Regions from separate parts of the Homo sapiens genome. Here all the other regions are linked to region 1. The links come from fine-mapping of genetic effects on gene expression. A gene starts in region 1. Each other region holds a variant in brackets. All regions are shown on one strand. Distances are between the middles of the regions. Region 1 holds the start of APAF1 (apoptotic peptidase activating factor 1). Region 2 has its middle 20 kb from the start of SNORA53. Region 3 overlaps APAF1 (apoptotic peptidase activating factor 1).

Evidence for each region. PIP is the estimated chance that this variant, and not a neighbour inherited with it, causes the effect.
Region 2: its variant is fine-mapped to the expression of APAF1 in whole blood (TOPMed, PIP above 0.99).
Region 3: its variant is fine-mapped to the expression of APAF1 in whole blood (TOPMed, PIP above 0.99).

What each region holds. Positions count from the first base shown.
Region 1 is chr12:98,640,663-98,648,922 of GRCh38, forward strand. APAF1 (apoptotic peptidase activating factor 1) reads left to right here and starts at 4,628. Exons shown (of 27, transcript NM_181861.2): 1 at 4,628-5,173; 2 at 7,657-7,835; 3 at 7,964-8,153. The coding sequence starts at 7,698. IKBIP (IKBKB interacting protein) reads right to left here and starts at 4,126. Exons shown (of 3, transcript NM_153687.4): 1 at 3,861-4,126. The coding sequence starts at 4,039. RefSeq lists enhancers at 2,844-3,471, 3,472-4,098, 4,099-4,726 and silencers at 4,303-4,502, 4,823-5,032.
Region 2 is chr12:98,616,033-98,624,061 of GRCh38, forward strand. It overlaps a transcript of IKBIP not described here. Among named protein-coding and RNA genes, the nearest start is that of SNORA53, 20 kb to the left of the region's middle. The variant C/A (reference allele first, on the strand shown) is at 5,027.
Region 3 is chr12:98,716,048-98,724,307 of GRCh38, forward strand. It overlaps APAF1 (apoptotic peptidase activating factor 1), which reads left to right. Exons shown (of 27, transcript NM_181861.2): 23 at 7,146-7,265; 24 at 7,592-7,717. Among named protein-coding and RNA genes, the nearest start is that of APAF1, 75 kb to the left of the region's middle. RefSeq lists a silencer at 1,670-1,870. The variant GA/G (reference allele first, on the strand shown) is at 4,929.

The DNA.
Region 1 (8,260 bases):
TTTCTATAAGAGTTTAGAAAAGAGCTATGCAAACTGACACTCAAGCCATATGGGTTTGGGCAACTTATCTCCAGTGTTTATTGTCAAGATGACATAGGATATATCAGGCCTTTTTTTTTTTGCAGGGTCTCACTTTGTCACCCAGGCTGAGTGCTGTGGTGCAATCAAAGCTCACTGAAACCTCAAATTCCGGGGCTCAAGCAATCCTCCAACCTCAACCCCCCAAGTAGCTGGGACTACAGGCATGCGCCACCATGCCTGGCTAATTTTTTGTATTTTTTGTAGAGACAGGGTTTTACCATGTTGCCCAGGCTGGTCTTGAACTCCTGAGCTCAAGATCCGCCCAACTCGGCCTCCCAAAGTGCTGGGATTACAGGTGGGAGCCACCACACCTGGCCTATCAGGCCTTTATTTAGCAGAGAGAAGATATTAAAGCAACACACTTTTAAGTTTCTTATGTATTATTTCTCTTTTCTTTCCACATAGGAAATGGTCTGAAGACAATGATATAGTGTGATTCCTTGAAATCCTTCTTGGGCAGTGGAAGGGTTCAGATTTTTTCCCTCCAACTTAATCAGATGAAGAGTGAGAGTAAGCAGTATTTAAGAGTACACAGACAGGCACACATATGCACTTGTATTTTAACCACCAGGGCCGTGTCAGTACGGAAAGCATTTAATAAAGATTTGATAGACCGACTTTTAGATGCTGAATTACGTGTTTTAGTGGTAAAGATCTCAATGGCTTTGTCAAAATTCTAGTGAGCTTTTAAGTATTTTAAGATGCCAAATACTTGCTTTTTATCTGGAAAATGTTTACAAATGTCTTATGGGGATATATTTTTATTTCAAAATTTACTATGAATAAATATTTTGCAATAAACAGCAACCAAAGTACATTTGCTTCAATTTTTGCAGCAAAAGATTTCACAAGAGCAACTAAGAGGCAACTATTTAAATAATAATTATAGAATCTGCCCATAAAAAACACATATAATACATACATTTTAGAGAGACAGGGTCTTGCTCTGTCTCTCAGGCTGGAGCACAGTGGTATAATCATGGGTTACTGCAGCTTTGACTTCCCAGACTCAAGCTATCTTCTCACCTCAGCCTCCCAAGTACCTGGGACTACAGCGAATGCCACCACACTTGGCTAATATTTAAAAATTTTTCGTAGACACGGTCTCACTATGTTTCCCAGGCTGGTTTCAAACTCCTGACCTCAAGCAATTCTCTCGCCTCAGTTTCCCAAAGTGTTGGGATTATAGGCATGAACCACTGGGTCTGGCCCCCAAAATTATTTTTGATATAGCATTGTGTTATCATTTTGCAAACATAGTTCAAATTAAATCTTCCTAATGAATGTAATACATTCATTACAATGTAATACAGGAATCACTAACAGCAAATTCCTGATGTGAGGGAAATTTTATTCCCATAAAGTTTAGTTTTCTATTAAAGCTTATCCCAGGATAGTAACTAACTTTCCCAAAACACAAAAGGTTACTTATTTATTTAGGCGAAGTCTCGCTCTGTTATCCAGGCTGGAGTGCAGTAGCAGATCTTGGCTCACTGCAACCTCCACCTCCCAGGTTCAAGTGATTCTCCTGCCTCAACCTCTGAGTAGCTGGGATTACACCAGGCCCAGCTAATTTTTGTGTTTTTGGTAGAGATAGGGTTTCACCATGTTGGACAGGCTGGTCTCAAATTCCTGACCTCAAGTGATTCGCCTGCCTCGGCCTCCCAAAGTGCTAGGATTACAGGCGCAAGCCACTGCACCTGGCCCAAAAAGGTTTTTTTTTCAATTTACTTAAAGGAGGTCAAGCATTTTAAGGCATAAGAGCCGTTTATTTAAAACAGTAAATTCAGTACATTTATTCCTTTCAGATCAAAATTAACATATTCCGTATTAGTAAAATAAATAATGCTATCTGCTTTTTTTTTTTTTTTTTTTGAGAAGGAGTTTTGCTCCATCCTGCAGGCTGGAGTGCAGTGGCACGATTTCGGCTCACTGCAACCTCCGCCTCTTGGGTTCAAGTGATTTTCCTGCCTCAGCCTCCTGAGTAGCTGGGATTACAGGAGCATGCCACCATGCCTGGCTTTTTTGTATTTTTAGTAGACACAGGGTTTTGCTATGTTGGCCAGGCTGGTCTCAAACTCCTGACCTCAGGTGATCCACCCACCTTGGCCTCCCAAAGTGCTGGGAGTACAGGCATGAGCCACTGCCGGCAGGCTGACAATTCTATTGTTTTTGAAGAGGGCGTTTAATCACTTTATTGTGACAAAATTTTGTTTGTTTGTTTTTTGAGATGGAGTCTCGCTCTGTTGCCCAGGCTGGAGTGCAATGGCACGATCCCAGCTCACTGCAACCTCCACCTCCCCATTTCGAGTGATTCTCCTGCCTCAGCCTCCTGAATAGCTGGGATTGCAGGTTTGTGCCACCAAGCCTGGCTAATTTTTGTATTTTTTGTAGAGACAGGGTTTCACCATGTTGGCCAGCCTGGTCTTGAACTCCTGACCTCATGATCTGCCCACCTCGGCCTCCCAAAGTGCTGGGATTACAGGTGTGAGCCACCGCGCCCAGCCGTAACAAATCTTTTAACTCTGAAAAATACACTATTTGGGATGAGTCACCAGTAAAGTATAATTCCATATGTAGTAGCATAAAAAATGTCTAGATGTCCAGGGTCTCTTCTAAAATTCTATCACTCTGGAAGATTAACAACAGTCTTACTAAATAACTTTACACATGAATGAAAAATGGAGAAAAATTCTATTAAGATGCCAATCTTATTAAAATGAAATGGGCTATTCCCTCCTCCCGCCAGAAAAAAAAAGGCTGGGAAAATAAAATTCACAAGTTGGTTTTTTTCTTTTTTCTTTTTTTACGAGTTGGTTTTAAGGTTATTTCTAATATTCATTTTTCCTAATGACACCAATATATCGCCATTTACCTGATTTTAAAACTGCAACTGGTTAGTTTTAAGTGAACACAAGTGCTATGTTTTTGTAGCTTTACCATATTCAATCTGTAACTTACTTAATAAAAGACCTTAAATTCATAATGCATGCACGGTGATCAAAATATGAGCACTCCTCCAAGCTCTGCTACTATAACGTTTGCTCCTTTGGGAGCATAATGATATGGTTTTCTTTTTTTTTTTTTTTTGAGACGGAGTCTCGCTCGGTCGCCCAGGCTGGAGTGCAGTGATGCGATCTTGGCTCATAGCAACCTCCGCCTCCCGGGTTCAAGCGATTCTCCTGCCTCAGCCTCCGGAGGAACTGGGACTACAGGCGCCCGCCACCACGCCCGGCTGATTATTCGTATTTTTGGTAGAGATGGGGTTTCACCATGTTGGCCAGGCTAGTCTCGAACTCCTGACCTCAAGTGATCCACCTGCCTCGGTCTCCAAACATAATGATCTGTTTTAAGGTTGCAAGTATTTCCATTAGGTATTTATGGGGTGAGTAGGGTGGGGCAGATGTGTCCCGGAATGGGGCACAGCGGACAGGAAGTAACGGTTTATAACAACGTGAACGCTTCTGACGTGTAGCGGGAGCTTCAGAAAGCGTGGCCGAATCTGCAGCTCTTAACAAATGGCTCGTTCCCAAACCTTAGCCTCAACTCCTTCTGAGCGATAGGGGCATGCTACCAGCACGGGGGGAAATGAGATACAAGAAACGCCCGAAAGGGAAAAACAAGGCTGGGCTGTTTCCTTCCTTTGGGGTCAAGACAGAGGCACAGAAGGCCCAGGTCTGGGAGGTTGGATCACCTCCGGCTGGATGTTGAGCCGGGTGGGAGCCCAAACAGCAGGGGGCCCACAGGAGGCCGGCCCAGGCAGCCTCGCGTCCACTTACCAGGCCAGGCCCAGGCACGTCCCCAGCGACAGCAGGCTCAGGCACGTTCGGGGGTCTGCCCAGCCCCCGCCTCCGCTGCTCCGGGCCACGGGGGTCTTCCCGCCCTCGCTCCGCTTCCCGGGCTCCGCAGCAGGGGCTCCCTTGGGCCCCGACTTCTTCCGGCTCTTCACCTCAGACATGTCTGGAGACCCTAGGACGACAAGCCCAGGGCAGCTTCTTCACCAGGGGGAGCAGGACGTGGCCGCCTTGGCGTTCGTGGGAACCCTGGGCGGTGACCGCGCCCCCTCACAGACTTGGCACCGCCCAGAGCCCAGCCCCTTCCCTCTCCCCGGCATCCTCGTTGCTTCACTGAGTCTTTCAGCTGCCAGCTCCATAGTTCCCCTAGGAGAGGTGGGCGGCGACCTCAACCCACAGCGCCTTCCACTGCGATATTGCTCCAAATCCGAGGAAATTCAAACTCCCGGGCGCGCGCAGGCCGACGGGACCCGAGGAGGAGGGGCAGGACGAAGGGGTCGCGCGCGCCACGTCGGGCGCGCCGCCGCTGCCCGAGTCCGGCATTGGTGGGAACGCGGCGCGTCCCTGAGGCTTAGCCACGCCCCGTCCGCGGGGTAGGCGGGCACTTCTACGCGCGCGGGCATGAGCCGTGGCAGGAGTGCGCGGCGGCAGCGGTGGCCGCCCCTTGGGGCTTGGGGTGTGTTTATTTGCATAAGCGGGCGCGCGCCGTCCGGGCTGGGTGGATCCGGCGGGATTTGACTGCTCCGCTGTCCAGAGGCGGAGAAGAAGAGGTAGCGAGTGGACGTGACTGCTCTATCCCGGGCAAAAGGGATAGAACCAGAGGTGGGGAGTCTGGGCAGTCGGCGACCCGCGAAGACTTGAGGTGCCGCAGCGGCATCCGGAGTAGCGCCGGGCTCCCTCCGGGGTGCAGCCGCCGTCGGGGGAAGGGCGCCACAGGCCGGGAAGACCTCCTCCCTTTGTGTCCAGTAGTGGGGTCCACCGGAGGGCGGCCCGTGGGCCGGGCCTCACCGCGGCGCTCCGGGACTGTGGGGTCAGGCTGCGTTGGGTGGACGCCCACCTCGCCAACCTTCGGAGGTCCCTGGGGGTCTTCGTGCGCCCCGGGGCTGCAGAGATCCAGGGGAGGCGCCTGTGAGGCCCGGACCTGCCCCGGGGCGAAGGGTATGTGGCGAGACAGAGCCCTGCACCCCTAATTCCCGGTGGAAAACTCCTGTTGCCGTTTCCCTCCACCGGCCTGGAGTCTCCCAGTCTTGTCCCGGCAGTGCCGCCCTCCCCACTAAGACCTAGGCGCAAAGGCTTGGGTAAGTTGACCTCCTCGCTTTTCTCCCCGAGCCAGGTTCTTTGGAGGCTTGGTAGCTGATTTCAGGGACTGAGAATTTGAGGACATGGAATATTTGATAACCATCCTGCTCCTGTACCAGGAAGAGAAATTCTGTAATGAGGAAGTAGTAAACTTGGGGTTTTCGTGGATAAACGTGCGCTGTTTTCTGTTTTACGTCCATGAAGAGTTTTGGCTTTCCATTTTGTTGTGGGTTACAAAAGGTTTTGAGACTTAGTTCAGATAAGTTGTGCAGTTTTAAAACGTATTTAAGATTTGCATATTTTAGTTTAACAGGACTAGGTGAAATTGGAAATTAGTTTCAGAAAACCAGAGTGTCTTATTTGCTTAGCTATTGGACATCACCTAAAAAATTCATTCATTCTTGTTTTTTCACATCGAATTTCATTACTATAAATTAAGGAACATTTTATGTTTAAGAGGACAAAAACGTTATTAACATTTTAAAAAATGAGAGTTTTGATTCGAATCAATAACTTTTTATCAGTTTTGTGCCCCTGCTGGGCATTTTGTAAGCCTTGACAAGCATAGGCAAATGCCCTACGTCCGTCCCTGTTTTTCCAAGTGCTACATTTGGTGACTTCAAAAACAGTCATTGAAGCTTGATAATTATTGCCCCCTTCTGTGAGCTCCAAGTTACTTGTGCTCTGTTTTTGCACTTCGGGCATTCACATTCCCACTCTCTCTCTCTTTTTCTTCTTTGAGTAGACTGTGAATTATTTCAGGCAAATGACTCAATCTTTTCTGTAGTCTTGGTGTCTGACATATAGGGAGGGGCACAAATGTGTATTGAATGAATGAATTGATAAACCCGTTTAGACTCTTTCACTCTATACATTGTGTAAAGTTCTGTTAATGTTTTGAAAACTTGCAGATATTGTGAACTGGGTTTTATGCCCATGGAAAAATTTGCATTATATTTGAAATAAAGTTGCTAGAAACGTCAAGTATTTTACTATAAAGGCTGTTATTCTTTCCTCATGTCCTCCTGGTCTGAGAAATCACATCAGAAAGTGTTTCCTGTTGCTTTGTGGGAAATGTGTTTAGCAAGGAGGACCTAGAGCTGACATCCTCCTTGAACGAGAACTAATACTCAATAGTAACAATGCTCTATTCACTCTTATGTTTGATAAGGAAAACAAGAAGTCTCTTAATATTAGGACTTCAATGTAATCACTATTTTATACAATCTTAATTAAAAAAGGAAGTATTTTATTGTAAGAAATGATAATGTGTGCTAAAAAAAATTGACAGTAGAGGCCGGGCATGGTGGGGCTCACAAGTGTAATCCCAGCACTTTCGGAGGCTGTGGCGGGTGGATCACCTGAGGTCAGGAATTCAAGACCAGCCTGGTCAACATGGTGAAACCCCGTCTGTACTAAAAAAAAAAAAAAAATAAGACAAGGTGGGGGAGAAATCCCAAATTTTGCTACTCAGAAGTAACTCAAACATTTCGATGAATAAACTTCTAAACGTCTATATATATTCATATGATACCAACACTTGTTTTTTTTTTTGAGACAGAGTCTCAGTCTGTCGCCCAGGCTGGAGTACAGTAGAGTGGTCTCGGCTCACTGCAACCTCTGCCGCCCTGGTTCAAGCAGTTCTCTTGCTTCAGCCTCCCGAGCAGCTGGGATTACAGGCACCTGCCACTGCATCTGGCTAATTTTGTATTTTTAGTAGAGACAGGGTTTCACCATCTTGGCCAGGCTGGTCTTGAATTCCTGACCTCGTGATCCACCCGCCTCGGCCTCCCAAAGTGCTGGGATTACAGGCATGAGCCACTGCGCCCGGCCCCCACGTTATGTGTTGTATGTGGGATCATGTTTCTGTTTTTTTTTTTTTTTTTTTTCAGCAACAGTATTATGAACATCTTTCCATGTCAATACATGGAGATATGTGTCATAATTTTGAATGGCTGCATAATATTCCATTTTATATACATACCCTAATTTTTAAAATCTATATTCAGAATGATGGACATTTAGGTTGCGTTCATCACTGAAACATCCTCCATTAATTCTTTTTTCTTTTTATTTTTTACTCTAGCCTCCCAATGTGCTGGGATTATAGGCTTGAGCTACCACACCTGATTGGAAACTCATTAATTCTCCTTGTGGATATTTTTACATATGTATTTGAATGTCTCCTTGAAGTAAATCCTTAGAAATGGGATTTCTGGGTTAGAGAGAAAGCTTATTTTAAACAATTCCATATCTTACTGCTTTCCAGAAAAATTGCATTCATTTTCTAGTTTCCCCAATTAGTGCATAAGAATGGCCATTTTCTCATACCTTTCCAAGCACTGGGTTTTGTCCATTTAAAAATTTTTGCCAAGGAAAAAAAATCAGTTTTGTTCTTTTTACGTTTCTTGTTTATTAGTGAGATTATGTATCTTTTCATATTTTTATTGGCCTGACAAATATTTTGGTGTTTTGGCTGTAGCTCATGGTTGACAGCTCAGAGAGAGAAAGATCTGAGGGAAGATGGATGCAAAAGCTCGAAATTGTTTGCTTCAACATAGAGAAGCTCTGGAAAAGGACATCAAGACATCCTACATCATGGATCACATGATTAGTGATGGATTTTTAACAATATCAGAAGAGGAAAAAGTAAGAAATGAGGTAAAGCTCTCTGAAGCAGTCCACACTTCCTTAAAAATTTTTAGAATTTCAGAACTTGTACTGGTCTCCACTACTTTATGTTGCATACATATTCATTGTTGTATACTAAACTACTTAATTTTTTTTAGCCCACTCAACAGCAAAGAGCAGCTATGCTGATTAAAATGATACTTAAAAAAGATAATGATTCCTACGTATCATTCTACAATGCTCTACTACATGAAGGATATAAAGATCTTGCTGCCCTTCTCCATGATGGCATTCCTGTTGTCTCTTCTTCCAGTGGTAAAGATTCAGTTAGTGGAATAACTTCGTATGGTTTGTATCCATTATACCTTCTATCACTTTGCTATCAAAATTGCTTTGGGTTTGTCTTATTGTAGATGTAATCTTTTGAAGAGAGTGTGACCAGTTCACTGAAAACT
Region 2 (8,029 bases), 25 kb before region 1:
ATATGATTATTCTTAGTTTTTTTTTTTTTGAGGAACCTCCACACTGTTTTCCATAATGGCTATACTTTCCCACTCACAGTGTACGATGGTTCCCTTTTCTCCACATTCTCACCAACACTTGTTATCTTTTGTCTTTTTGATAATAAATATTCTAACAGGTGTGAGTTGATATCTCATTGTGGTTTTAATTTTTCATTTCCCTGATAATTAGTGATGTTGAGCATTTTTTTCCATATACCTGTTGGCCATTACTATGTCTTCTTTTGAGAAATGTCTATTCATGTCCATAGCCCATTGTTTAATTGGGTTTTTTTTTGCTATTGAGTTGAGTTCCTTATATATTTTGGATATTAAGCCATTCTCAGATTTATGGTTCATGAGTATTTTCTCCCATTCTATAGGTTGTCTCTTCACTCTGTTGACTGTTTCCTTTTCTGTACAGAAGATTTTAGTTTGACACAATCATATTTATCTATTTTTGCTTTTGTTGCTTGTTCTTTTCAGGTTCTATTCAAAAAAATCTTTCCCAAGACTAACGTCAAGAAGCTTTTTCCTCATGTTTTCTTCCAGCGGTTTTCAATTTCTGGTGTTACATTTAAGTCTTTAATTCATTTTGAATTGGTTTTTGTATATGGTTTGATATAAGGGTCCAGTTTCATTCTTCTGCATAGGATATCCAGTTTTCTCAACAGCATTTATTAAAGAGATGTCCTTTCCCTTTTGTGTGTTCTTGGCAACTTGGATGAGAATCATTTGAACATACACTTGTAGAAGTATTTCTGGGCTCTCTGTTCCATTAGTCTATGTTTTTTTTTTAAATGCTAGTATCACGCTGTTTGGATTACTACAGCTTTGTAATATATTTTGAGATCGGGTAGTGTGATGTCTCCAGCTTTGTTCTTTTTGCTCAAGATTGCTTTGGCTATTCGGGGTCTAAGGCAACTGCAAATAAGTTATAGCAAATGCTAGAATGAAGGGACCAATGTCCAAGACTATATGTCTACGCTTTATTGGCCTGTAACTTTTATGAACAGTTTTCTGGCCTATCTAACTATCCATGAGACCTTGAATAATTCAAATTCTCAAGTTCCTAGTATGTTGTTAGGCATGCAAAATATGTGGAACATAAAGATGAGTATAACTCGAGTTGTGGCCTCAACTTAGTTTAGTAGAGAAGACAGATAAGTAAAAGAAAAGAATTTCCAAGGTTCTAAAATTCTGATTCCAAATGCAGCTGTTTTTCAACTTTTGTATGTTTCAATGTCATCCTTCTTCCCCACTATACATTATGAACTGAAAGCTCTTAAATTGTCACCTTGATTTAACTTGGACACATTAACTGATAAACATTTGGAGCCACCCAAGTGTCTGGCAACATCTTGAGTTGTTATTTTTGTTGTTGTTTGTGGTGATGGTCCTGTGTCTGTGCACACACATGTGCGTGCCTATATAGCAGTGTTGGGGAGTTGAGTATTTTATCGAACTTTAAATATTTGACATTTTATTGCATTGTGCCATCAGTTAATAAAATGAAGAAGGGAAAATTACATAGCGATAAGATGGGTAGATCTCATAAACCACACAAAGTTGGATAAAGTCGTACAATTAAAACAAAGATGGAAATCAGGTAAGACTATTTAGCTTCAATCAGAAGATTAGCCTATGGACTGTGTGCTCAATTATGAAGAAAAATAAATTAAGAAACAAATGTAAAATGGCTAGAAATACATTGCTAATGCGTATGCCCAAAGACAGATATACAGTAATTACTCTGGAAAAAGAATCCCATTTATAATGTGTAAGTCAATCATTTGACTTTTGCATATTTAACTTTCAGCTTGTTTTCTAGGAAAGTACTATGTTGTAAAGTAGGAAATTATAACTTTCTATTAATAACCAAAACTAGTTTGATTTGACAGCATATACTGTACTACAGTATGTCCTAGTATGATCAAGAACAGTCTCTGCTTTTAGGGAGTTTGTAGTTTAGTTTGGGACACAGAATGTCGATAAATGTGTTACTTAAAATTCAGAAAAGAAGAAATAAAAAAGCTTGAGTCCAGGAGTTTGACGCTGTAGTGTGCTATGATTGTGCCTATGAATACCAACTGTGCTCCAGCCTGGGCACATAGCAAGACCCCCATCTCTAAAACAAAAAAATTGAAATTAAAATTTATAAAAACAAATAGACTGTAAAACATTTTTACAAAATTAAATATGCAGTTTAATCTAAAGATATCTTTTTTTCTAAAATAATTGTGTATTTCTTCAATGTTTTCTTATCAATTATCTTTCTTAAAAGAAAAAATTGAGGCCAGGCGCGGTGGCTCACGCCTGTAATCCCAGCACTTTGGGAGGCCGAGGTGGGCGGATCACAAGGTCAAGAGATCGAGACCATCCTGGCTAATGCAGTGAAACCCTGTCTCTACTAAAAATACAAAAAATTAGCCGGGCGTAGTGGTGGGCGCCTGTAGTCCCAGCTACTCAGGAGGCTGAAGTAGGAGAATGGCGTGAACCCGGGAGGCGGAGCTTGCAGTGAGCCGAGATTGTGCCACTGCACTCCAGCCTGGGCGACAGAGCCAGACTCTGTCTCAAAAAAAAAAAAAAAAATTTGAGATGGGGGTCTCACTATGCTGCCCAGGCTGGTCTTGAACTCCTGGCTCAAGTGATCCTCCCAAAGTGCTGGGATTACAGGCGTGAGCCACCACACCTAGCTTGAATTATCTTTCTTAAATTGTATTTGGATTACTTGGCTAATGCCAACCTTTTGAGATTATTTTGGTTATCATACATTTAGTTTTACTTAACACAAATAAAAATGAATTATGCTCAGAATATTATTTTGAGGGCAGCTTTAAAAAGAAGCATCCATATAGTTGCAAAATAATTATAATGAAGTACAGAAATGGGACAGTAGGACAAAATAATTCTAAGTAGCAACCCCCCCACTTCGCCCCATCATAAATGTTTAATTTCAAAATACACTTGAGGATTTTTCTCCTCAATTGCTTTATGCTTAAATTAATTATTGGTGGATAAGGTGGCCCAAAATGTGTTTTTTGGTAGAGAAGTGAGTTTGCGAAATGTTCCTGTGGGTATGACATTAAGCGGTAGCCACAAATAGGAAGGAAACCAAGAAGTGATTGCAAAATCACATTTTATTTTTAAGGAGGAAGTTTTGCAACATAGTGTATTTGATGAAACAATCTCCCAAGGGAGAAAGGACTAGACGGCTACTTTAATCTATTTCATTACCAGGTTATCATTTATTAATGTATCTACTCTGGTAAAAGTAGCTTAATAGCAATTAAACAATTAAGATGTTGATGAATGAGCTTAGCTTATTCTTAGAAGGATCAGATTATTAGGAAGAAGCTGTTAGTAAACCTCTTTGTTTCACTTGGTTGTTTATAATAGCAATGTATCATGAACTTCTATTGATCTTTATGAAAATATAAGCTCAATACAGTGTGGTAATAGTCTACAGATTGTTGTATTAAGTTATTTTAAAAATTACTTCGGGTTTGGTTAACCTATTTGCCTAGGATGGATAGAAGAGTTAGAGTCTATCAGTAGCTGAAAACAGCACATCAGTGAAGGCTGGGGATGGTGGCTCACGCCCGTAATCCCAGCACTTTGTGAGGCGGGGTGGATGGGTCACTTGAGCTCAGGAGTTCAAGACCAGCCTGGGCAACATGGTGAAACTCCATCTCTACAAAAATTACAAAAATAGCCGGGCTGAGCTGGGAGGATGGCTTGATCCTGGGAGGCAGAGGTTGCAGTGAGCTGAGATCATGCCACTGCACTCCAGTCTGGGCGACAGAACCAGACCCTTTCTCAGAAAAAAAAAAAAAAAAAAAAAAGTACATCAGTGATTTGATTATTTATTTATTTATTTATTTATGAGATGGAGTCTCACTCTATTGCCCAGGCTGGAGTGCAGTGGTGCAATCTCTGCTCACTGCAACCTCTGCCGCCTGAGTTCAAGTGATTCTCCGGCCTCAGCCTCCCAAGTAGCTGGGATTACAGGCATGCACCACCACACCTGGCTAAGTTTTCTATTTTTTTTTTTTTTTTTTTTAGTAGAGACGGGGTTTCACCATGTTGCGAACTCCTGACCTCAAGTAATCCGCCCACCTCAGACTCCCAAAGTGCTGGGATTACAGGCATGAGCCACTGCCCCCGGCCAGAATATTTATTAAATTCCTATCATATATTCAAGGTATGAGGTTAGATGCTGTCCTGTAATGTTAAACATTGCCTGGATCTACAAGCACAGCAACATGGTTCAAGAATATGATTTCTAGGTCCAATCTGCTTTCTAAAAACTTGCTAAAGGATTTTTTTTTTTTGAGACGGAGTCTTGCTCTGTCGCCCAGGCTGGAGTGTAGTGGCGCCATCTCAGCTCACTGCAACCCCTGCCTCCTGGTTTCAAGAGATTCTCCTGCCTCAGCCTCCCAAGTAGCTGGGATTACAGACGCTCACCACCACGCTCACCTAATTTTGTATTTTTAGTAGAGACACAGGTTTCACCATGTTGGCCAGGATGGTCTCGATCTCCTGACCTCGTGATCCACCCACCTCAGCCTCCCAAAGCGCTGAAATTACAGGCGTGGGCCACTGCACCCAGCTAGGTTCTTTGAATTCTATTAAAGGACCTGGAAATTTTATTGATCTGTATAATTTAAAACCATTTAGATCAGGCGCAGTGGCTCACACCTGTTATCCCAGCACTTTGGGAGGCCAAGGACGGAGGATCCGTTGAGGTCAGGAGTTTGAGACCAGCCTGGGCAACATAGAGAGACCCTCACCTCTACTTTTTTTTATATTAAAAAAAGGGTAAATAAGTAAATAAAACCACTTAAAGCCAGAAGGCATCTTAGGGATTATTGATATAATTCTCTCCTTTTACTATTTAAAACTAAGCCCTAGTGGCCGTGCGTGGTGGCTCACACCTGTAATCCCAGCACTTTGGGAGGCCGAGGTGGGTGGATCACCTGAGGTCAGGAGTTCGAGACCAGCCTAG[C/A]CAACCTGGTGAAACCCCATCTCTACTAAAAATACAAAAAATGAGCCGGGTGTAGTGACAGGCACCTGTAATCCCAGGTACTTGGGAGGCTGAGGCAGGAGAATTGCTTAAACCCAGGAGACGGAGGTTGTAGTGAACCAAGATTGTGCCACTGCACTCCAGCCTGGGCGACACAGCAAGACTTTGTCTCAAAAAACAAAACAAAACAAAAAAAACCTAAGCCCTAAAATAAAGTGCCCAGAATATGCAGTGGCAAAACCTATTAATAGATTAGAGGAGTACAGCCTAGGACTCTTCAGCACTGCTTTTTCCTCTTCTCCAACATTTATTCATTTATTGATTCCTTCTCATGCTCAAGGGCCAAACAATTTTAGAGCACAGCTACAGCTTTTGAGGGACTGAGTCTGGTTTAATGGCAACATGGTAGAGAACACATTTGACTCAATTATTGCTTTTTGAGTTATCGAGATAGTTCTACTAACAGCAGATTTGTTGTGATTTTTCTCCCCTAGTTGAACAGTAGCAGGCTCCATGGTGTAGTGAGATGTCCTTGGCCTCTGGAATTGAACAGACCTAGGTCTACAGTGTGACTGCAAGATTCCCAATGTTCCTAAGTCTCCATTTCCTTATTTGTAAAATGGGTCTAATAGCTAGTAAAGGTGTAGTAAGGATTAGTGATAATGACTGGCACAAGGTAGGTAATCAATATATAGAGCTGTTATGATGACGATAATGAAGGCTGGACGCGGTGGCTCATGTCTGTAATCCCAGCACTTTGGGAGGCTGAGGTAGACGGATCACGAGGTCAAGAGATCGAGACCATCCTGGCCAACATGGAGAAACCTCATCTCTACTAAAAATACAAAAATTAGCTGGGCATGGTGGCGCATGCCTGTAGTCTCAGCTACTCGGGAGGCTGAGGCAGGAGAACCGCTTGAACCCGGGAGGTGGAGGTTGCAGTGAGCTGAGATCGCACCACTGCACTCCAGCCTGGGGACAGAGTGAGACTCCATCTTAAAAAAAAAAAAAAAAAGGAATGATTATGATGAATGTACATCTCCTAGAAATGCTTGACATACGTGTGGGTATGTCATTTTAACAGGTGCTGAAGTGTTAGTTCTCTCCTCTCCTGCTGTGTAAAGCTGGGGTGGAGTATTTTGATTTGTATTAAATTAATAGTTTATAGGCTGGGTATGGTGGCTTACACCTCTAATCCCAGCACTTTGGGAAGACCAGATGGGAGAACTGCTTCAGCCCAGGAGTTTGAGACCAGCCTGGGCAACATAATGAGACTGTTTCTACAAAAAAATAAAATTAGCTTGGCATGGCGGTGTGCACCTGTAGTCCCAGCAATCGGAGGAGCTGAGATGGGAGGATCCCTTGGGCCCAGGAAGTTGACACTGTGGTGAGCAGTGCTCACGCCACTACACTCCAGCCTGGGTGACAGAGTGAGACCCTGTCCCAAAATTAATTAATAGCTTATAAATTGAAATGAGCAGGTGCTAGGAAAATTTGTAGAGCTTTTGTCAACTGTGCAAATATGGGGTAAGTCTACAAAGGATGTTTTTTTTTTTTTCTTATTGAGTTTGGTAAATTTTCAGCATCATTACTGTGTAATGGCATCATATCAAAATTTGAACAATGTTATAGATTCATACAAAGGTCTACAATTAGGTTGAGAAGAAAAATAATACTACTAATTTTGCATCTTATGGGTTTTTCTATGAAGCCACACAGGCTAATAAATCAAGATTTTTGGTTATAAAATATACAAGTATAATTAGTCAATAGTTTCTGATCATTAAGCAAAATTTAAGGCAATATTACATTTAAAAATTATATATTCAAAAGTTTAAAAATAATTAGGTGCTTGTATTGTAAAAGTGATTTATTCCTGTTAACATTAAAAAAATTGATCCAGTACTTTTACTTTTTTTTTTGAGATGGAGTCTCACTCTGTTGCCAGGCTGTAGTGCAATGGCGTGATTTTGGCTCACTGCAACCTCTGCCTCCCGGTTCAAGTGATTCTCCTGCCTCAGCCTCCCGAGTAGCTGGGATTACAGGCGCCTGCTACCATGCCCGGCTAATTTTGTATTTTTAGTAGAGACGGGGTTTCACCATATTGGCCAGGCTGGTCTTGAACTCCTGACCTCAGGTGATCCGCCCACCTCGGCCTCCCAAAGTGCTGGGATTACAGGGGTGAGCCACTGCGCCCAGCTGATCCAGTACTGTTATGCTTTTGAGACAGGGTCTTGCTCTGTCACCCAGGCTGGGAATGCAATGGTGCAGGTCACTGCAACCTTGAACACCTGGGCTCAGCCTCCTGCGTCGCTAGGACTACAGGGATGCGCTTTTTTTTGACTTTTAGTAGACATGAGGTCTCACCATGTTATCCAGGCTGGTCTTGAACTCCTGAGCTCAAGCGATCCTCCCACCTCAGCTTCCCAGAGTGTTGGAATTATAGGAGTGAGCCATTGTGCCTGGCCTTACTCCTCCTTACACTTTTTTTTTTTTTTTTTTTTTTTTTGTAGGGACGAGGTCTCACTATGTTACCCAGGCTGTCTCAAACTCCTGGGCTTAAGCCACTCTGCCTCAGCCTCCCAAAGTATTGGGATTACAAGTATGAGGCACTGTGCCTGGCCACTTTATAAGAAATTAATTGACATAAAATTTATTATCAGTTACAAAGATACAAAAATGTGTTTTAGGATATTGGTAATTTTCCCTAAAGAAAAGACTAACAATGTAATTTAATATTTGATACACAGGAAAGTTTTTGAAATTTTAAGCATCTGTGTTAAATAAATGAATGGAAGAAAGAGAGAAAGACAAATTAAGTACATCTAAATCTCTCTAATAATTTCTTAATAGGAAAACCTCTTCATAAATACAGGATATATCTATCTAGATATCTATACATACATACAAACGCATATATACTTTAATAGTTTTCTCATGTTATACTTGTAGAAGTGCAGTTTTCTTCCTTTCCCTTGTGTCATT
Region 3 (8,260 bases), 75 kb after region 1:
GTCCCAATGCACATTCTTTTAAAATTCAAATAGTATTACAAGACTTATTATGAAAAACAGACCCTTTCCCCCATTTCTCGTTCTCCAGAGGCACCACTTTTAGCTTTTAGATGATTCTTTTGATATTACCTTCATGCCTCTATATGGCATGCTTATAGTGCTCTTCTTGATTTTCCCATTTGAGAAGTTATCTACCGAATTCCCTACAGGAAGATGTTGCTTTTTTCCGCCTTCCACCTGTCCTGCCTTCAGCTTATGTGCATGCACACGTTCACAGACACTCATTTATCAATCCATTTATCCCAATTATAACGAAATTTTGTTTAGATCCTTCCTGTTACTATGATCACTGTGTACTAAGGGTACTGTGAATGCATTTTTTGCCTTAACGCAATTTAGGAAAATTTGACCTTTGGGTGTAGTTGGAAATTATTTTACACTAAAACTTTGAAGACATTGCTCCATTTTCTTCCAAGTTCCAAAGTTCACGTTGAAAAGTCTGAAGCCATTTTGCTGCCTAATCTTTCTCTCTGGAAGATTTTAGGATCTTCATTTTATCCCCAGAATCTTGAAATTTCCTGATGATACACTGTGTTGTTAGTTTTTATTCATTGTTTTGGATATTCAGTCTTCCTTTTCAATTTGGAAACCTATGATTTTTAATTCATGGAAGTTGAATTATTTCTTTGATTCTTTCCTTTTTGTTCCAGTTTGCTTTCTCTTTTTGTAACACCCATTATTCAGATGTTAGATCTCCCGGACTGATAATCTAGTTTTCTTTTTCCACATTTCATCTTTCTATAGTGTGCTTTATGTTTTTTTCTTTATTTTTTTTTGAGATGGAGTCTCACTCTGTCACCCAGGCTGGAGTGCAGTGGCGCGATCTTGGCTCACTGTAACCTCTGCCTCCTGGGTTCAGGCAATTCTCCTGGCTCAGCCTCCTGAGTAGCTGGGATTACAGCCGTATGCCACCATGCCAAGCTAATTTTTTGTATTTTTTTTAGTAGAGATGAGATTCCACCATGCTGGCCAGGCTGGTCTTGAACTCCTGACCTTGTGATCCGCCCGCCTCGGCCTCCCAAAGTGCTGGGATTACAGGCATGAGCCCCCGCACCTGGCCTACTGTGCTCTATTTTTGGGGAGTTTTCCTCAGTTTTGCCTTCCAGCCATTTTATTGAGTTTTTCATTTCTACTAGTATATTTCTAATGTGTTAAATTCTTATTTTGTAGATAGAATATTTTATCTCTCTGAGGAGATATACACACAGACAGGTAAATATATATAATATATATATAGAAATTATATACACACACACACACATATAATTTTTTTTTGTTTTTTTTTGAGACGGAGTTTCACTCTTGTTGCCTAGGCTGGAGTGCAATGGTGCGACCTTGGCTTGCTGCAACCTCCGCCTCCTGGGTTCAAGCGATTCTCCTGCCTCAGCCTCCTGAGTATCTGGGATTGCAGGCATGCACAACCACACCCTGCTAATTTTTGTATATTTAGTAGAGATGGGGTTTCTTCATGTTGGTCAGGCTGGTCTTGAACTCTGGACCTCAGGTGATCCACCCACCTTGGCCTCCCAATGTGCTGGGATTACAGGCATGAGCCACTGTGCCTGGCTTATATATATAATTTTTTCCCCATAAATTTTTGTTTTGCTGCATAGTTGCTGTTCCCTCCAAGTTGCTTTTTTCTGTTTGGTTGTTTTGACCTCCTATTTTGAAGGCCTCCTTAGCTCTCAGTGGTCATTGGCTATCAGAGATCTGTACTGAACAACTGGCTGAAAGCTCTGTGTGTTGACTGAGATCTTCTCTAAAAGGTGAATCTGAAAGGGGAAACTTTGTTGTGAGTATCTTCAGGTCTTTTGTCTTGGTCTCCTCAGATTCCTAGAGAGGAATTTTCTGGTCTTTTGCCTGGAGGATAAACCTGGCTGGCAGGTTCTCAGAGCTAAGTTGGGGAAGATAACAGGAAGTATTAATAGATGTTGGATCTCAACATTTAGTATGTACACCTTCCCTTGATCCCTCATTCTCAGAATTGTAATTCTACCCTCAGTTGTGCTGGTGCCCTTAAATTCAGAGATTCTTCTTTCTAGTTTGCTGTCACTGTCTGTCTACTTTCTTCCTTTTTTTCCCATAGTAACTTTGGGATTCAACAGCAATTCTTTTCTTTTCTTTTTCTTTCTTTTTTTTCTTTTTGAGACAGTCTTGCTCTATTGCCTAGGCCGGAGTGCAGTGGTGCAATCTCGGCTCACTGAAACCTCCACCTCCGAGGTTCAAGTGATTCTTCTGCTTCAGCCTCCTGAGTAGCTGGGATTACAGGCACCTGCCATCACATGCAGCTAATTTTTTTGTATTTTTAGTAGAGACAAGGTTTCACGATGTTGGCCAGGCTGGTCTTGAACTCCTGATCTCAAGTGATCTCACCTTGGCCTCCCAAAGTGCTGGGATTACAGGTGTGAGCCACCGTGCCCGGCCTTCTTTTTTATGTAAAATCAAGTTTCCTAAACTCCTTGGAGGAGTGGGGAAGTCCAGCATTTCTAGCTTCACAGCTCTGCAGCTCGTTCTCTTATTTTCACGAGGCATTAAAAATATGGCCTTACTGGGCGCAGCGGCTCACACCTTTAATCCCAGCACTTTGGGAGTCTGAGGTGGGAGGATTGCTTGAGGCAGGAGTTAGAGACCAGCCTGGGCAACATAGCGAGACCCCATCTCTGCAAAACAAAATAATTTAGCCAGGTGTGGTAGTGCATGCCTATAATCCCAGCTACTCAGGAGGCTGAGGTTGGAGGATCGCTTGAGCCTAGGAGGTCCAGGCTGGAGTGAGCTATGATCATGCTACCGCACTCCAGCCTGGGCAACAGAGCAAGTCCCCATCTCAAATATATAATGGCCTTGTTCTTAGGAGATCTCTTTGCCCCATCTCCTTCCCTCTCAGTTATTTCGACCTTCTCTTTCCTTTGATGCCCTTATCCTCGTTCTACTCCATTGGATTCTATTCCCTGTGGTTTCTCCTCACTGTAGGGTTGTTCTGGTTAATTTTGAGAGCTCACAAGGCTCACACTGCTCCAGTCCTTCCAGACTGTACCTCACACTCAGTGTCTCCTGCTCTTCTCTAGTTGTTCCATTGCACTTTTCGGTGAACACTGTGTGGCTATCTTAGGATTCTCTGCCTCCTAATTCTTAATACTTATATTCTTAGCCCCACCCTCATTTCCTCCTTTGGGTATACTTAGTGCCTTCCATTTTTGAGCATTTTGGGAGTTCATAATGCCGATTTTGTTGCTTTAGACTTTTTCTTTTCTTTTCTTTTTTTTGAGACAGTCTTGCTCTGTTGCCAGGCTGGAGTGCAGTGGCATGATCTTGGCTCACTGCAGCCTCCGCCTCCTGGGTTCAAGCAATTCCCCTGCCTCAGCCTCCTGAGTAGCTGGGACTACAGGCCCGTGCCACCATTTCCGGCTAATTTTTTTTTTTTTTTTTAGTAGAGTTGGGGTTTCACCATGTTGGCCAGGATGGTCTCGATCTCTTGACCTTGTGATCCTCCCGCCTCAGCCTCCCAAAGTGCTGGGATTACAAGCGTAAGCCACCACGCCTGGCCACTTTTGACTTTTTATAATGCCTTTAGGATTCTGTTTTCTTGACTTTGCTGAGTCAGTTACCATTCTCTTGCTTTCCAGCCTCCCACATTTTGTTGCTGTTATCTCCTTTCTCATTCTTTTGATCTTGCCATTTTAGTAGGGCTTTAGAAGTGAAGGATAGAATGCATATGTTCAGTGGAAATTATTATATTCTTTTATTTAGTATATATATTAATTGTGGTGGCAATATTTAATTGTATTGTTAAAAACCCTTTTGGGAAAAAGATCTTTTAATGTTATGTCTGTGTGAGTCCTAGGAAGCAGTATGATTGCAATGAAATTTGGCTTTAGTACAGAAACTTACTTGTTATAGGCTCCCATGACACTGGTGTTCTAGCTGTAAAACTCAGTGTAATAGTCACCTTTCTTCCTCTCCAGATGTCTTTGGAATGGGTAAAACTAAAAACTACATCTGATGAAGTTCTTTTGAGACATTGTATACTATGTATTCTATCAAAAGTTAAATTCATAAGGTTTTTATGACCAGCTTGACGATTTCAGGTATTCTCAGCTAGGGGGAAGAATAATTTCTAGAGATATTTTTAGAAAAGGAGTTAGATTATATTTAGAAATATGAGTTAAGTAGTTGTGTTTCTTCCTCTTTTTCTGTTCTACTCAGAATACTTTTTACATTTACAGTGTTTTAAATGTAACAAAACTCTATAGATATTTTCGAGAAATGACTGGTTGGGTTTTGTTTTCATTTTTTAAGGTTTTTGTAAATGATTAAGTGGAGGTTTGTTTTAATTATCTTTGTATCCCCAAAGCCTGGAATCCAGTAAGGGTTCTGTAAATCTTTGCTGAGCTGAAGTTATTGCCAAACTTTGAAGAATCAGCTCACCTGATTATAGCCCTTAGGATTGTGAACATTGAGGTCTACTTTGGTAGTTTTTGATCCTTTACCTTGAAGTAAATAAAGGCCAAGTATTACCCATGCTTACATGAGCCAGTATATAGGACTATGTTAGTTCTTGCTGGTATGAAAAGTTTCCAGCCGGGTGCGGTGGCTCACGCCTGTAATCCCGGCACTTTGGGAGGCCGAGGCGGGCGGATCACGAGGTCAGGAGATCGAGACCATCCTGGCTAACACGGTGAAACCCCATCTCTACTAAAAAATACAAAAAAATTAGCCAGGCGTGGTGACAGGCACCTGTAGTCCCAGCTACTCAGGAGGCTGAGGCAGGAGAATGGCATGAATCTGGGAGGCGAAGCTTGCAGTGAGCTGAGATCCCGCCACTACACTCCAGCCTGGGCGACAGAGCAAGACTCTGTCTCAAAAAAAAA[GA/G]AAAAAAAAATTTCCTTAACATTTCTACAATTTAAATTTTATTCATATAGCTGAAAAAAATTCTACAAGTATATATACATTGCAAAAATAGTCAATGATAGAGACATCCCCAAACTCAACTTTTGCATTTGACTAATGGTGGTGGAAGTTTAGTGATATTAAGGTTATTCAATTAGCACAGTGTGTTTCCGTGCAACAACAACAACAACAACAAATCACTCATCATCATTGCCTAGTCAGAAACCTTCTGTAACAAAAGCTGCAAAGGCTATTCTTAATCTGCCCTCAGTGGTTGTCAAATTCTTTGTTATATCTGCTCCAGAAGGCTGTCTGAGTTCTTGATGCAGAGGGCAGAAGTAAGATACTAAGTTAGAAATGAACATTGAATCAGGCAAAGCTAGAATAGGCAGTGTCTGTAAACTAGGAGGAGCTGTTCAGCATAGCCATTGATCCTCCAGTCCAGTGAAGCCCAGAAAGCGGGAGGAGAGAGCCAGGAGTTTCCTAGTAGAAATGGAATAAGGTCTTTTATGCTTAGTCATATGGGGTGCCCTTCCTCTCTGGTATGATTTGGGAAGCCAGAAATGCCTCCATTTCTTCCCCTTCCCCCAGCATATCTCATTGGGTTCTTAAAATATGAAAATTACTAATTCATTCTCTTTAGAATTACTCTCACTTCCAGTTCGTCTTCTAAAGTTCTCTTGCTTGCATACAAGACCCCATGCTCCTGATATCCTGCTTCTGTGAATGAGCATTCTGAGGCAGAAGATGAGAGATCTGAAAGCCAGGGCTTGTTGGGGAGGACGACTGCTAAATGTGGTGGAAAAAGAAGTAAAAAAAAGGGGAATAAGAGATGTCATTTATTTTAAGATTTTGCCTAGGTCTGATTAAAGATATTTCTGCTGTTTAGCATTGGCCAATAAAAAGCTAGACTCAGAATGTTACTCATGTGCATACCTGTAGTTGTGGCTGCTTTTTCTTTATCTTTTTATTCTTTTGGAGCTGGCCTGTTTTCCCATACCTCAGAATTTTAGCTTCATCAGGCCCACGGGGCTGTTTCTTTGGATACCTTCCCAACCTTTTTTCTCTTCTGTTTCTTCTGCGTCTCCTATGCTCTAGTCAGATGGACTCATGAGCAGGTCCCTTTTCACGTTTCCCTGCTCCTATACTTTAACTCCAACATTTATTCCCTTTGAAGAACCCTTCTCAGTTTGTGAATCACACTTTAAACCCATTCCTCAAGCCTACTTTGAATGTGCTATCTCCAAATTTTCTCTAAGGAATTACTTTTTTTGAGTTTCACAGAACTTTTATCTCTATCATTGTATCTTCTATTGTAGGACTTTTTGGGTTTGTTGTTGTATTTCTCATTTTCTTTGCTAAACTCTTAAGTTTCTTTATGCTAGATCCTTGTTTGATTCCTATTTGCCTTGCATATAGGTACTAAATAGACATTTATTAAATAAGTTAATTTGAAGTCAAGTATTAATAAAGCTCTAAATACAGTTGCTTTTAGTAATTAAGAAATGTCCTTTACATAGACATAGCATAAAAATAAACTTCTGTGTACCTCTGTGTCTCAGATACGTTTGTATGCATATTTTGTGCTAGTTACTCATGTTATTTCATTCCCCCCACCCCTTTCCTTATGTCTGAGGAGCTCCTCCTGAAGCTCCACATGAAAAACAATGCCTTCTCACTTCCGTCATTTTGAGGATTGCGATGGGGGATAGCTGAGATATTTGAAGCTTGGGAACTCTTGTGTTTTGGTTTGAAGCTGCTTTGATCAACTGGCCTTCCCAGGCCAGCTTCAGTGGGGCCAGGATCTGTAGACTTCCCCAGCTTGTAGGTTCAGAAATCTGTGACTATGTAATTAGGATAATTTTCTCAGGAAAATTTAATCAGATGGTGAGCTCACTGGCATATTGTGTGTTTTTTTTTTTCTATCTTCTGGTATAATTAACTGTTCTCCAAGCAACTGAAGAAAACAAATTTTATTTAGGAGGAAAAGTATTTTATTTTGCCCCTAGTCAATTTACATAACCGCAGCTTCTGTCTGTAAAATGTGGACACCACAGTCTTCTCTCTTATTCCTCTCTGTTTTACTGAAATGCCATGTGAGTAAAAGACTTTAGACAAGAGAATGTACACTCTCTCCACCCCTCCAATGAGATAGGATCGGGGGAGGATTATAACAGACTTATTTCTTTGATATTCAGGTATGGAATTGGCAATTGGACAAATGTATCTTTCTACGAGGCCATCAGGAAACAGTGAAAGACTTTAGACTCTTGAAAAATTCAAGACTGCTTTCTTGGTCATTTGATGGAACAGTGAAGGTAATTTAAAGTATAAATTTGTTTTTTGAAAAAGTATTCTCATATTGCAATGATTATATTGAGACAGTCAAAAGCCACTGTGAGGCTAATTACTTACTTAAAAATTTTTAATTTTTCTCATGCTTGTTTTCTGTTAATTGCAGTCACCTACATCTGCTGTGTTTAATGAGCATTTATACTGTTAGTCACATTTAAAGTAAAGGGGTCAGAACAGCCAGTGTATTAAAACTCTTGTTTTATAGACCTGTCTTGTAGCTGATTATGCTTTTTAATATAAAATGTTCTTAAAAGTGTCAACCTCCAAGTGTTTTTTTTTTTTTTTTAAGGTATGGAATATTATTACTGGAAATAAAGAAAAAGACTTTGTCTGTCACCAGGGTACAGTACTTTCTTGTGACATTTCTCACGATGCTACCAAGTTTTCATCTACCTCTGCTGACAAGACTGCAAAGGTAGGTCAATCAATTGAAACCATGCATAAAACTTTGGTAGTGGTTATGTATAATGAGTTCAAATAATATATGCAAAAGGACATAACAGTTGCTCTCTACATGTCTGTTTCATATTTTGTGATCTTTTGGAGGATGCCCATTGGCATTTAGTTGGTATCAAATGAATGAAATGAAATACATTGAGGACTTCTGATTTCTCCCTTATGGATTACTTTTTGTCTATAACTAATCAAATGCAACCTCTACTGCATATTGTAGGCAATAAAAATCATTGAAAAGCATTTACATTTAATTATACACTGACAATACAATTTTAATATAATTAATGTAATATAATTGACGTGTGTCTAAAATCACATTCTGGTGAATGATGCTGCTTGGTGGGGGACCTCAAGTACTCTCTTCTCTCCTTTTTTCTCCTTCTACCAGTCTTTCCAAACTATAAACCTTGGAATTGTCAGGGCTGTATCCTGTCTTTTGTGCTCTGTTGATGACTCTTTAGTGCATCTTAGAGTTATCTTCTCCTCTTTGTCACCACCCTGA